4 linked regions of the Homo sapiens genome follow. The protein of the gene in region 3 purifies or fractionates together with the protein of the main gene of each other region. This does not show direct contact. Each region holds a gene or a part of one and is shown on either strand. Other genes may lie near its edges.

What was found. Proteins that work in one complex are often made in the same cells at the same time.
Region 1: the proteins of AGL (region 3) and NAXD fractionate together in Homo sapiens (co-fractionation; one large-scale study listed by BioGRID). This does not show direct contact.
Region 2: the proteins of AGL (region 3) and CAT fractionate together in Homo sapiens (co-fractionation; one large-scale study listed by BioGRID). This does not show direct contact.
Region 4: the proteins of AGL (region 3) and IGF2BP2 fractionate together in Homo sapiens (co-fractionation; one large-scale study listed by BioGRID). This does not show direct contact.

What each region holds. Positions count from the first base shown.
Region 1 is NC_000013.11:110,622,045-110,625,544, forward strand, and holds part of NAXD (ATP-dependent (S)-NAD(P)H-hydrate dehydratase), read left to right. Parts: intron 1-171; coding exon 172-322; intron 323-2,189; coding exon 2,190-2,235; intron 2,236-3,145; coding exon 3,146-3,234; intron 3,235-3,500. UniProt on the Homo sapiens protein: Catalyzes the dehydration of the S-form of NAD(P)HX at the expense of ATP, which is converted to ADP.
Region 2 is NC_000011.10:34,452,434-34,455,933, forward strand, and holds part of CAT (catalase), read left to right. Parts: intron 1-656; coding exon 657-761; intron 762-1,367; coding exon 1,368-1,493; intron 1,494-3,500. UniProt on the Homo sapiens protein: Catalyzes the degradation of hydrogen peroxide (H(2)O(2)) generated by peroxisomal oxidases to water and oxygen, thereby protecting cells from the toxic effects of hydrogen peroxide.
Region 3 is NC_000001.11:99,884,861-99,888,360, forward strand, and holds part of AGL (glycogen debranching enzyme), read left to right. Parts: intron 1-3,117; coding exon 3,118-3,248; intron 3,249-3,500. UniProt on the Homo sapiens protein: Multifunctional enzyme acting as 1,4-alpha-D-glucan:1,4-alpha-D-glucan 4-alpha-D-glycosyltransferase and amylo-1,6-glucosidase in glycogen degradation.
Region 4 is NC_000003.12:185,692,543-185,696,042, reverse strand, and holds part of IGF2BP2 (insulin-like growth factor 2 mRNA-binding protein 2), read left to right. Parts: intron 1-2,814; coding exon of another isoform or gene 2,815-2,866; intron 2,867-3,262; coding exon of another isoform or gene 3,263-3,280; coding exon 3,281-3,344; intron 3,345-3,500.

The DNA of each region.
Region 1 (3,500 bases), on a different chromosome or scaffold from region 3:
AATTGCATGTGTTAATGTAATTTTGAACATCATATTTGCTTACAGAAATCCATTGGGTAAAAATCTATAGCATTCGTAATAACTTTGGAGAGGGTTTTGGTTAATGGGCTATTATGTGTACTAACAATATCTGTTTACCTTTCTGAATTATTCATTTTTCTTGTCTTTCAGTTTTAGAAAGAGCGTTTTCGCTACGTAAAGCACATTCGATAAAGGATATGGAAAATACTTTGCAGCTGGTGAGAAATATCATACCTCCTCTGTCTTCCACAAAGCACAAAGGGCAAGATGGAAGAATAGGCGTAGTTGGAGGCTGTCAGGAGTAAGTAGCTGATGTGCAGTGTTGGTGTTTAAAAAGTCAGTTGCTGGCTGGCTGCTTACCTGACTGTCATTCACGCTGTCTAGTTTGACCTCAGTAATCATTTCCAAATGCAGCCTGATAGGACACTCAGTATTTTTCAGTGATCCACTTTTTGATTAACTAGGAAATAACTCTGAGGAGCCCTGACTGAATTACTCCCTCATGTGTGTCAGTGTTAAGTTTTGTCGTAGTGGGGAAATGAGCCTGTTTTTTCCACTTTCTGCTTTTCTGTATTTAACTGGACTTCATACCACAAGCATGTTTTTTGTATTTAGGATAGAAACACTCAGCAACCTCTTGGTTTACTTTGTCAATTTAAAGATGTTACTGAAAGTCATTTATGAAATTTGACAAATCCCTAGCTTGCTTCTGTTCTGTTTTGCTGCTGTGTTTGGTACGTAGCTGTTTGTAAGTTGTCCTTGGGTGTGAAGGATACCTTCTGCCTCTGACGGAAAGCCTGCCGTGGCTCCTCTGTTTCTGCTTGCTTTCTGTTTGCATGGATGTGGTATCTCTCTTTGCCCATCCCTCCATTTGCAGCTGTTGATCGTGCCATAGGGTGTGTTAGAGTTGTTACTGGATCAGGTATGTGTGCATTTTACATGCTGGTGACGCTGCCGAATTGTCCCCCCATTGCGTTAGTGTGTGTTGCCTCCCAAGAGCACCTGTTCCCTGCAGCCCTTGGAGGACAACCTTTGCTAGTGAAGTCGACAAGCTTTCTTGTTGTTTTAATGCATTTCTCTTATTAGTGAGGCTTGTTTTCACATGATGGAAGAGTGTGTGCATGTATGTTGCCTGTTCTGTACTGTCTTTTGCATTTACAACGCTATTGACACCGCTTTGCAGGAGAAGGCCATGTAAGGTGATGGGTATCAGCATTTGCCCAGGTCTCTCTTTCTTGGGTTAGCAAAACATTTCACTGCTCGGAATGGACATAAAGGTTGCATTTGCCCATCTGACGGAGGGCAGGGCTCTTCCTTTCTGTGCCTGAAGTGCCCTTAGACCTGGAGAGCCAGGGATTCCAGAACAGCCAGGCGGAAGCAGCTGGGTGGTGGGTGCCGTTTCTTGTTTGTCCCAGGTGGCCCCCATCTGGCCTCTGCTGACTGTGACTCTTGGAGGACGGGGTCTGCCCACTCTGGGACCCTGTCCATGCCCGACTGCTCCGAACATGTGGTTGTCACTTTCTTCTCTCCAGGCAGAAGCCTGCGGTCAGCTCCTTACCTTGAACATTCACATTGCAGGGAGACTGCAGGCATTACTGCCAGAGATTCACTCTCCTGAAATGCATGAAGGTTTTATGTAAAAGATCGACATTTCTGGCTGGGCGCGGTGGCTCATGCCCGTCATCTTAGCATTTTGAGAGGCCGAGGCGGGCGGATCACCTGAGGTTGGGAGTTTGAGACCAGCCTGACCAACATGCAGAAACCCTGTCCCTACTAAAACTACAAAATTAGCCGGGTGTGGTGGCGCATGCCTGTAATCCCAGCTACTCAGGAGGCTGAGGCAGGAGAATCGCTTGAACCCAGGAGGCGGAGGTTGCAATGAGCCAAGATCGTGCCATTGCACTCCAGCCTGGGCAACAAGAGTGAAACTCTGTCTCAAAAAAAAAAAAAAAAAAGACATTTCTAGTCGAACCTGGTTCATGTTCATTGAACATTTGCTGAGCATCTTTTAGGTGTTGGGTTTGTGCTGTGTGCTTCATGTCTCTGTTATTTATTGATAAACCATGTCTATATTATTTATGTCTATTTTTTATTGATAACCTATTTATTGATCAAGGTATGCTTACCTTATTCTCAGAAGTTTTTGACTCTAAATACCTTCTTTTTAGGTACACTGGAGCCCCATATTTTGCAGCAATCTCAGCTCTCAAAGTGGTATGTTTACTTAAAATTTCTTTATTGGGATTTTTCTGGTAGAGAGTTTGATTATTTAAATATGATTAAAGCAAATGTTTTCTGATAGAAATCTAAATAATATCTTAGGGTAATCATAGCTAATAGAAACACCGTTAAGTCTATCCTGACATCTGTGCATAAACAAGATCACTTCAGTTGAAGCTCATTTTTTTTTGAGACAGAGTTTCGCTCTTTTTGCCCAGGCTGGAGTGCAATGGCGGGATCTCGGCTCACAGCAACCTCCGCCGCCTGGGTTCAAGCGATTCTCCTGCCTCAGCCTCCCGAGTAGCTGGGATTACAGGCACCTGCCACCACGCCTGGCTAATTTTGTTTGTATTTTTAGTAGAGTCAGGTTTTCTCTCTGTTGGTCAGGCTGGTCTCGAACTCCTGACCTCACGTGATCCATGCGCCTCGGCCTCCCGAAGTGCTGGGATTACAGGCGTGAGCCACTGCACCTGGCCTCAATTGAAGCCCATTTTTAAAACCTAAAGCGTGATTTGTATTGTACTCCACCAAAGTGCACCTGGGATGCCTTTGTAGGTCGCAGCTGAAGCCGCTGATCCTGCAGTTTCCCATGAGCTGAGCAAGTGCTAACGGCCGGCCTCTTCCTGTGACCCTTCCTCCTGGAGGGTGACCAGACCGAGCTGGGCCGTGCTGGTGTGTGTGGCTCTGACCCTGCCTCTGCAGTGGCGGCAAAAGTCTTTCTTTTTAGGTATTGTGCTCTGCGCCCTGGCCCTTTGCTAAGCCACCTGGCTGGGTGTAATCCGAGCTAGTACGTTTCTCATGCACGTCACCAGGGCTGAGTAATGAGCGCTGGACGCCTGTGTCTGGCGGGTGGGCAGCGATGCCGGAGCGATCCCTGAGTCGGCCTCTTGTGCTCCTTCATCAGGGCGCAGACTTGTCCCACGTGTTCTGTGCCAGTGCGGCCGCACCTGTGATTAAGGCCTACAGCCCGGAGCTGATCGTCCACCCAGTTCTGTGAGTCGCTCTGCGCCGGCTTCTCGTAGGTTCTCTTTCCCTCCTGCATCATTTGGGGTTTTGGCACTGACACCGAAAGCGTCCTGATGGATTTTCCATCCTCAGAGTTTCTCAGCAGGTGCTGTAGAGGAAGTAGGGAAATGAAGGAGCCCGTTCTTCTGGGGTCAGAATAAGACAGAGACGGCGGGGTGGAGAGGTGGGTGGGGGAGCTTGGGCCTGTTGGAAATGGCCGGGGCCCAGCTCCAGAGGCAGGGAGGCCCTGTGGG
Region 2 (3,500 bases), on a different chromosome or scaffold from region 3:
AGTTTAGTTTTCCTTGCAGAGCATCGAAGATTAGTAAAAAGAGGGACTTTACTTTGGAAACAAGCAGAGGGTGTCTCTACATGCTCTGAGTCAGCAGGAGGGGGTGTGTGTGCGTGCGCGCATGCGGGAGGGTGGGTATATTTTTTCCGTGAAGAAATACTATAAATCCCAGCACTTTGGGAGGCCAAGGCAGGCAGATCACTGGAGTCCATGAGTTCGAGACCAGCCTGGGCAACATGGCAAAACCATATCTCTGCAAAAAAATACAAAAATTAGCCAAGTGTGGTGGCTCATGCCTATAGTCCCAGCTACTTGGGAGGCTGAGGTGGGAGATTTGCTTGAGCCCAGGAGGTCAAAGCTGCAGTGAGCTGTGATCATGCCATTGCAATCAGCCTGGGTGACAGAGTGAGACCCTGTCTTAAAAAAAAAAAAAAAGAAAAGACTATAGTTTTGAGTATATTTGAAATACTTTAGGGTATCTTAGATGCTAGTTGTCTATGCTGAGTAAATTTCATATTATGGTTTGGCAGTTTAAAATTCTAGGATTGTATTTAGAATTATAATCCATAAACCTAGTAATAGGCATATATAATGAAAGACACCATAATTCCTGTAAACTTAGTTTTTGGATTTTTTTCTCTCTTTTTTCTATTTAGTTTCCATCTTTTATCCACAGCCAAAAGAGAAATCCTCAGACACATCTGAAGGATCCGGACATGGTCTGGGACTTCTGGAGCCTACGTCCTGAGTCTCTGCATCAGGTATGAACCCTTTTTTGCCATTGTATTATATCACCTGGGATGCAGTGTTTAATTATGCCTCTTCATAAAGTGTCTCTCCAGTTTTGGCTATTTTATTGGAATCAGCTTCCTCAGATTTCTTGATCGTGAAGAGTTTTGTAGTAACTGGCTTTACTAATCATCCCCCATTCATCGGCCTTAAATGATGATGATGATGATGATAGATAGCTAGCAACATTGTCAGTTGATATTTAGCAGTAGTAAGGATGAAAGTCTGTAGTGTAAGGTAAAGCTCTGTATTAAGGAAGTGGGGGGAAAGTAGTACCAAACAAATTTGCTATGCAAATAAATTTTGAATAACAAATTAGGCCAGTTTTCAGGTTGTTTTGGCTTTCCTTCATAGAATTTTGAGTCATAGTATTAGTGATTTGCATATCATTTTGATTTAAAATTTTTCTGTTTGTTATTTTCTACAAGTGAAATAATAATGGTAACCCTTCCCATGGGAAATTGGCTAGTATGTTTTATGTCATTAAGGGACTTTCTGGAAACTAAGGAATATCTTAAAAATCAAGGATGTTTTGATTTAAATGAAAACATTTTAGGCTTTATATTTCTGTTCTTTAGGTTTCTTTCTTGTTCAGTGATCGGGGGATTCCAGATGGACATCGCCACATGAATGGATATGGATCACATACTTTCAAGCTGGTTAATGCAAATGGGGAGGCAGTTTATTGCAAATTCCATTATAAGGTATGTGTTACCTTTGGGGCAGAGGGTACAAGGCTCCTACCGCATACCTCCTTATTTTTCCTGAAGGATTGAGCAAAGATTAAGGCTTCTCCCACTTTTCCCTCACCTCCATCCCCAAAGTTGGGAAGTATTGATCTCATTGATCAGTACTGATTTTGTTGGCTACCATCTGAGGACCTTGGAGCGTATCCCAATCTCATTATCACTTCCAACATCCAATAGTGTCTTTCCAATATCATTTCTTTTAACTTTTTAAGTCATCCATCTATTTACTTAGCATTTATTGAGGTTTTATTATGAACAAGGCATATAAGTAAAATCAATTACAAATGTCAGAAAACAAAATTATACTGTTTTTAAAAATTTGCATTCATATAGCCAGATCAAATCAGTTACATCTGGGGAGGGTTTTGAGAATGTTTTAATCAACTGAAATATTATAAAGGGCCCTCTTTTGGTATAAGCATGGCATTTGTTACAATGAGCAATATTGCCAGTGAACCCTGGCATGTTAGTGATATTCCCAGAGAACTCCCAAGGGCTAGTCAGAAACAAGCCTGAGAACCTCTGTTTCCAAATACTGCTGCTAAGATAAGCAGAAAGAAGTGGGCTCGTGACCAGTACTGGATAATCTCTCTCTTAGTGACATCCAAAAGCCCTATTTTCTTCTATCCTGCTTTCTTCTTTATCTGAACAATTTAATGTAGGTATATCAAACAGGAAAACTATCACCTCTTTTTATATTCATAACTTGGATCTATAATATTTGACAAGGAAAAATTTTATGAAACAGTTGACCCATTGGCTTGTAATTGCCAAAAGGGTCAATGTAGTATTACTTAGAATAAGACTAAGTGGTTGTATCTAGGACAGCCAGTCTAGTTGGTAGCCTTGGAGTTATGCCAGCCTGAACTCAAATTTCTACTCTCCTAGATAATTGTGGCCTTGGGCATAGTATTAAAAGTTCTTTGAGCTCCAGTTCTTTTCACTGTGAAGTTGGCATAATATTACCAGCTATACAAGTCCTGGAAAGATTGGATTGCTTGTGGGTCTTTTATCCTAGGGCCCTAAGGTAGCCTGAGATCTACATGGATTCATCAGTCTGGATTATTCTGACCTAAGATTATTCTTTTCTAAACCTAAAGGATTCAGTTAAAATCAGAAAGGTATTGCAGTGTTATTGTACTACTTAATATATTAGCTCTTTGGGCGATCTGTACATGGTGACCTTCATTGTTTTAATCCTGAAGGTGGCTTTACTTCTTGTTCAGTAGTAAGAGTTCAAACCTTTTCACTGATGAGACAGTTGGGATTTCTGTGGTAGAAATAGACCAGCGTTCAGAGTTGATTTTTGCTAAGGAAATCTTTCTGCGGCACTTGGCTTGTTGGGAGGTCTTTGAGAATAAGATCACATGGTCAGTCCATCAAAGAACAGTATGATATGATAACAGGAGCACTTATGAAGTGACACAGCTTCTCTGGGTTTTAATGTCTTGCTTGGAAAGTCAGAATATTAATTTTGCCTGCTCATAGTCAGAGAACTAGTTCCAGGTGGCTGTACTGAAGTTCTTTTCAACTCTATGAGCTATGATTCTATGATTTATTAAAAAAAAAAAAAAAAGGAATAGGACAGGGGTGAAGGGATACTGGCCGAGCACAGTCTCAGTAATTGATTTGAGCTGTCATGAAATGGAATTAAAACATTACTTCATGATAAAAGGCAAGTAGTCCTTTAATTTTATTAATCTTTTGCCTACTTTTAAGTATATTTTGATTTTTCTGATTTGGAAAGTAACATGAGTGTAAAAATTCAAATAATAGAATACATAAAGGGAAAGATAGGACTGATTTTAAATATGAAATGTGTAGATGGGATTCCCTTGACATTTAAAAGTATTGGGATAATCAAGTAGAATTTCTTGTTGATAAATTCATTAGTATCAGATTTGAACAATAGAAGTATTGTTGTAAAGAAAGTTCATTCTTTGGGCAGTGTTACTCATAATC
Region 3 (3,500 bases):
ATTGTTTTATAATTTGTGTGTGTACCTGCATGTGTATTCTCTCTATAGATATAGATACACACATGCCTACATGCATACATAACACATGCATGCATCTCTGTATACACACACACACAATTTCTCTGAAGTATTTGAGACTAAGTTGCATACCTCATACCCTTTACCACATCATTTTTTAAAAATGTCAACATATTATTCTACTTTATGGCTTTACCATAATTTATTTAAACAATTTCCATTTTTGGACATCTAGATTGCTTCTAATTGTTCCCTATTATTTATGTCTTTGTACATTCATCTTTACATGAATCCTTAGTTATTCCCTTTCTAGATGTTTCTGCATACTACAGAAGAATATAGGTTTTGAGGTTTAGACCTAGGTTTAACTTTAGCTTCATTACTGTCAGTATGATCTTGGATCTATTGTTTAGAACTTTCATCATCTCAGTCTCCCATCTGGAAAATTTTGTAAGAATTAAATAGGATAACACTTATAAAACACTTAATACAATGCCTGGCACATAGTAAATGCTCATAGTTTGCCATCATTAGTACTAGTATAAATATTTTCAGAAATGGAAGTTTTGGGTTAGACGAGGGGTCCCCAACCTCTGGGCCACAGACTGGTACTGGTCCATGGCCTGTTAGGAACCAGGCCGCACAGCAGGAGGTGAGTGGCAGGTGAGCTTTATCTGTATTTACAGCTGCACCCCATCACTCGCATTACCACCTGAACTCTGCCTCCTGTCAGATCAGTGGCTGCATTAGATTCTCATAGGGACGTGAACCCTATTGTGAACTGTCCCTGCGAGGGATTTAGATTGCATGCTGCCTATGAGAATCTAATGCCTGATGATCTGCCACTGTTTGCCATCACCCCCATATGGGACTGTCTAGTTGCAGGAAAACAAGCTTAGGGGTCCCACTGATTCCACATTATGGTGAGTTGTATAATTATTTCAGTATATATTACAATGTAATAATAGTAGAAATAAAGTACACAATAAATGTAATGCACTTGAATCATCCCAAAACCACGCCCCTCACCCCCAGTCTGTGAAAAAATGTCTTCTGTGAAACCAGTCCCTGGTGCCAAAAAGGACCATTGGGTTAGACTATATCCATATATTTGAGGCTGTTAATACATACTGCCAAATTTTCTCCAGAAAGATTATAATAATTAATACTTTCAGCTCTATCCAAGAGTTTCCATCATTAGCAATACTGAGTATATATTATTATAACGTAGTGTTTAAGGGCATGGAGTATAGAACCAGACTAACTGGATTTGAATTCCATTGCAGACTCTTATTAGCTATAAGAAGTAAGACCTGGCTGAGTGCAGTGGCTCACTCCTATAATCTCAGCACTTTGGTAGGCCAAGGTGGGAGGATTGCTTGAGCCCAGGAGTCCAAGACCAGCCTGGGCAACATAGTGAGACCCTATCTCTACAAAACGTTTTAAAAAAATTAGCTGGAAGTTGTGGCATGCACCTGTGGTCACAGCTGTTCAGGAAGCTGAGGTAACAGCATCAGCATCAGTTGAGCCCAGGAGGTCTAGGCTGCAATGAGCCATGATTGTGCCACTGCTCTCCAGCCTGGGCAACAGAGCAAGACCCTGTCTCTAGAAAAAAAAAAAGAGATCTTTGAGAATTTATAATAGACATAATTATAGCACCTTTCTTACAGATTACTTGAGTAAAACACAATAGTTTTTGACACATAGTGATTGATAAGTGTTAGCTGTTACTAATCAAACTGGTAAATATAAAATAGTTAAAAATAACATCTCATGTAATTTAAATATTAAGCTAAATTATTTTGTTCATTGGCCATTTGTATTTATTTGTTGAAGTGTTGTTTTATGTATTACCCCATTTTGCTATTGTGTTCGGCTTTCTTTGTTGTTTTGTAAGACTTTTTATTGTTAAGGATATTAACTCCTAATTCAAACTATTCTTAATAAAGTAGTTGCATTCTTAACCAAAAAATCTGTGATGAAGCAGCTTTGTGTTTGGATGGACTGCTTGTAAAATGCATGTTCCTCCTCAGACCTGCTCAGATTATTTTGGAGCAAGGCCAAGAAATTTGCAGTTTTATAAGATCCCCAGGTAATTTTTAGGCAAGGAGTCCACTGGCTATTGAAAAATATTGTCCTAGAATGGAGTTGATACTGAGACTTCTGAGTGATTTGACTCAGGCTTGACTCACAAACTAGCTCTGGGGAGGGAGGCTGATATGGAGAGAACAAAGCACAGATGACAATGATTTTCTAAATTGAGCCAGAACTAAATGGGAAAGAAAGATACACATTCAAGAGGATATGTGTTCACATAAAATAGCAGTCATGTAAAATGAAATTACCTGAGCATCTATTATAGAAGCACAAGAAAATACAGTTTCAGCTGTATTCAGGTGTGGTCAGTTATACAGTCTTACTGCTAACCAAACAAAGGGAAATCAAGGCCATGATAGTCTTCCCTCTGACAGTTATCAGGAGGCATCTTAATCTGAGAAAAATCCTGGTTTCTTGAATAAACAAGCTGAGGGGCAGTGCAACCTTAGAGAAGAGAAAGGAAGGGACTTGGAGAGAAATATGAAGGTAGAGAGCATGTGATTTCCTAGGCAATTAACTTTGACTTTTTATTCCTTTAGTCATCCTCTGATAAGTATTTTTAGTATACAATAACTAGCATAAAAAGTTCTTGATGTCTCACTTAGGGGAATATAAAGGAGAGAAATCAGATGAGAACACATAAATAAATGAAGGAAGGAAGGAAAACACTAAGTCCAAACTAGAAAGGTTAAAAAAACAGATTTATAAGATAAAGGATATAGAAGCCAAAATATTTTCCCAGCATACTTCTAATCAATACAATTTGGTACTTGATTATTTGCTTGGTTTGGGAGTAATGTCGCTTCTAATTGAATTTTTTTTCACAATTTGTCCTTTAATAATTACTTAAAATGTATGAGTATAATGTTTATTTGAATGCTGAGTTCCTAAAACATACACTGCTAAGACATTTTATGATTGTAATTCAGATTTTCTTCTTTTGTTTCTATTGACAACAAGCGAAACTTCAATATATGGTTATCTTTATTTTCCAATTCTTAGTCTTGCCTCCAGATTAACTTTGGCTGAGCTAAATCAGATCCTTTACCGATGTGAATCAGAAGAAAAGGAAGATGGTGGAGGGTGCTATGACATACCAAACTGGTCAGCCCTTAAATATGCAGGTCTTCAAGGTAAGCAAATGGAAGGATAGCTGAGCTTTGTGTTTTTCTTTTAGGGTCATCTGGTGTCTTCTTTACAGACATAGATATAGGCTCAGAGTATGCCTACTTGGGTTGCAATTATGGCTCTGCTTCTGCTCATTAATTGACCTTTGGCAAGTAATATAACCTCTTTGTGTGCCAATTTCTGCTTCTATAAAATTTGAATAATATTATCTAATTTAGAAGGTTTTTGTGAGGATTAATGAGATCATTCACATAAAA
Region 4 (3,500 bases), on a different chromosome or scaffold from region 3:
CGCCCAGGTGGGCAGATCACATGAGGCCAGGAGTTCAAGACCAGCCTGGCCAACATGGCAAAACCCCATCTCTACTAAAAATACAAAATTAGCCAGGTATGGTGACGCATGCCTGTAATCCCAGCTACTTGGAAGGCTGAGGCACGAGAATCGCTTGAGCCTGGGAGGTGGTTGCAGTGAACCGAGATTACACCACTGAACTCCAGCCTGGGTGACAGAGTGAGACTTTGTCTCAAAACAAACAAACAAAAACCCTGAAGTGATTTTTGTGTACACTCAAGTTTGAGAACACCTGTCTCAGGAGCAGTGCTGCAAATGCCCAGAAGATACTTTTCTTCCTGCCAACCTCTTTTTTATCTTCTAAAGCATGAAATACTATGATTTTTAAAAGGAAAACAGTGGTACCTAAAGCTGATATCTTATCTAGCTCTTTAAGAGTCCCAGAAAAGTAGATTCCAAACTCCTGATGTGACAGGCAATAATACATGATAAAGATTATTTTTGCCTTGACCTAGAAAACAGAATGTAAATTCAGTCATTTACTGACTGCGAACCCTTGAAAAAGTCAAATAACCTCACTGACTCAGTATGCACAAGTGTCAAATTGAGAGAGAAATTTCTACCCTTCCTCTGTCACTGGATAGTTGTGTTACCCAAAGAGAACCTGTATAAGGCATTTGTAGACAGCAGAGTCATACGTAAGCTGAAGGGATTGTTCAAGTTCACTTAGGAAAAATTGCAAACAACCCATTTTCTTGTATATGATCTATTCTGCTAGTTTAATTAATAGTTTTAAAGCAGTAATTATTCAGATATTATTCAGTTTATGCTGCTGCCTGCCCATGCCCAAAGGTGAAGGGAAAGAGCTCAGAAAGAAGACATGATTTATAAGGATTCTATTTCTTAGTTCTTATTTCCTTCGACATGGAAAGAAGACTCCCCCTGCTTTTTTTTTTGAGGCGGAGTCTCACTCTGTCGCCCAGGCTGGAGTGCAGGAGCATGATCTCTACTCCCTGCAACCTCCACCTCCCGGGTTCAAGCAATTCTTGTGCCTCAGCCTCCCTAGTAGCTGGGATTATAGGTGAGCGCCACCATGCCTGGCTAATTTTTGTAGTTTTAGTAGAGACAGGGTTTCACCGTGTTGGCCAGGCTGGCATCAAACTCCCGGCCTCAAGTGATCCACCCACCTTGGCCTCCCAGAGTGCTGGGATCACAGGTGTGAGCCACCGTGCCCGGCAGAAAAGAAGACATTCTAATGATTGGGTGTTGTAGGCAAGATGGTCTTGCAGACATGAACCTGTAAAAGTTACTAGTTAAGATTATATTATAAACTGAGGACAATGCTACGCAAGAAAAATATATTCCAGGTCCCTGGGGCAGTTTATAGGTCCTAGGGCAGCTGTGTGCTGGAGACCCCCCAGTTTCCAGCTGCCTAACAACAACAGGATAGAACTGTTGGGCTATTGTTTTGTCCTGTTACATGAGTGATTCCTGATTCAGCAGGAAAATATTTTCAGTAGAGTTTTAGGCAACTTTATAGAACTTTCATGCCCAGTGAAATAAATTATTTGAATGGAGCTTAGCTCGTCACAGAATCAAAGAACTGCCTGATTTCCTGAAGACTAACATCTTTGAAGAACAGAGCATATGACTAAGAAGTGAGCACAGAATCTGAGAATCCTAATGGATAGCTTTATTCAGGAGGTTCAAACCCAGCCCTTTCTGGGAGTCTACAGCCTTATCTGTAGCACTAGAAAGCAGCAAATATGAAACCTTTTTAGCATTCTCTGTGTCAGCACTGAGAGAGGACAGTAATGTGCTACACCTCCCCTGTTTTGCACTGTGAGGACTTCTGTGGGTTAAGTGTGAATTAAAGCGTGCTATGAACACTCCAGGCCAAGGCCAGAGCTGGGCTCGGGTTTATTACATGTAATTCTCAGTGGCAGCTCTTTCTGAGCATTACATACAACTCCCTGCAACCCATAAAGGCTGCAGCTGCTTTAAAGTTATTTAACAAACAGTATTTTTAACAGTAGTCCTTAAGCTTTTCGGGGTCTCAGGTCCCTTTGCAAATCTTGTAAAATAACAAGAAAAATTCACATTTCTACAAGTTTGAATCATTTTGGAGGGGTTTATAGAATTCTTGAAGCTCAAGCATGGGTCCAGTGTAAAGAATCGTATATTATAGAGTTTTATTATTACTTTGGACAGCAGGTTTATCATAATTTTCTTGAATTATCTTTAACTTAATGTTGTTGTTAACTCCAAACTCCCAACAGCTTAAATCTTTTAAAGGGAAGAATTGATCTAGTCACCTTTGTTTTGGGAAACATATATTTTTGGTGTTTAAGTTTACTGGCTTGGATTGAGAAAGTTTTCTCTGGCATTTGAATTTATTTTTAATTTCTAACTATAGAAGAAGAGGCAAGAAATTATGATCTAAGACAAGACAACTCACAAGAGTAATCCCTTATTAGCCAATCATAGAGTTTATACTTTCTCTTTTAGCCAAGTAATTAGAATTGTCAGTTTTATTTATTAGATTTAACCCACACAGTCAAAGAGTTCAGTCAAAGGGAAACAAAAATAGTGATGGTTCAACCTTGTCAGTGAATGAATAATTTAAATTAAAATATTTTCTTATTGTTTTATATGTATATCCAATTATTTAAGAATTAATGCAAATTATAATTAAAACTCATACCTTGATAGTGATGTAATAAATTGATACAAACTTCTAGGAGACCAGTCTGAAAATATGCATTAAAAAGCATCATGTTCTTTTACTGCATTACTTTTCTTCTGTGATTTTAGCCTAAAGAAGTAATTCAGAAGAACACACAATCCAGTGATGTTTGCAACAAAGGTGATTTTTAGCAACACTATTTAGACTAGCAAATAGTGGGAACAGCCTACTTACCAACAATTGGGGAATGGTTAGGCAAGTCATGGTACATTTGACTCACTGCAATTTTATATAGACATTAAAAATGAAAAATACAAAGAAAATGTACTGATACAAAATACTCATATAAAAGTGTTTATAAAATATGTGGAAAATATAGTTCTGAGTTGTTCATACGATTGATTACAAACGTGTTATATACAATTGATTACAAATTACTGTGAACTCAGATGAATAAACGTAGAGATGCAGATAACTGTGGAGCCAGTGTGATGAGGGTTTTATGCATTTTTCTCTAAAGTTTGTCTGTTTACATTAAGCCAGAGGGTGACAGCACTTTTTCCTATGACAGTGTAGTTTTTGCCTTTTCCCTAGTCAACACAGACACAGAAACCGCCGTTGTCAACGTCACATATGCAACAAGAGAAGAAGCAAAAATGTAAGCAGATTTGGGCTTATTTCTGTTTAAATTTATTTGTTTTTATATTTGAATTCCATTGAGTTCTGTGTTTTTAAATGTTTTCTAAAAAGATGCAGATCTTTGAGCTGGATATGTGCCACCTTTGACATACCCATGGAGCTCCACGGCATCTGA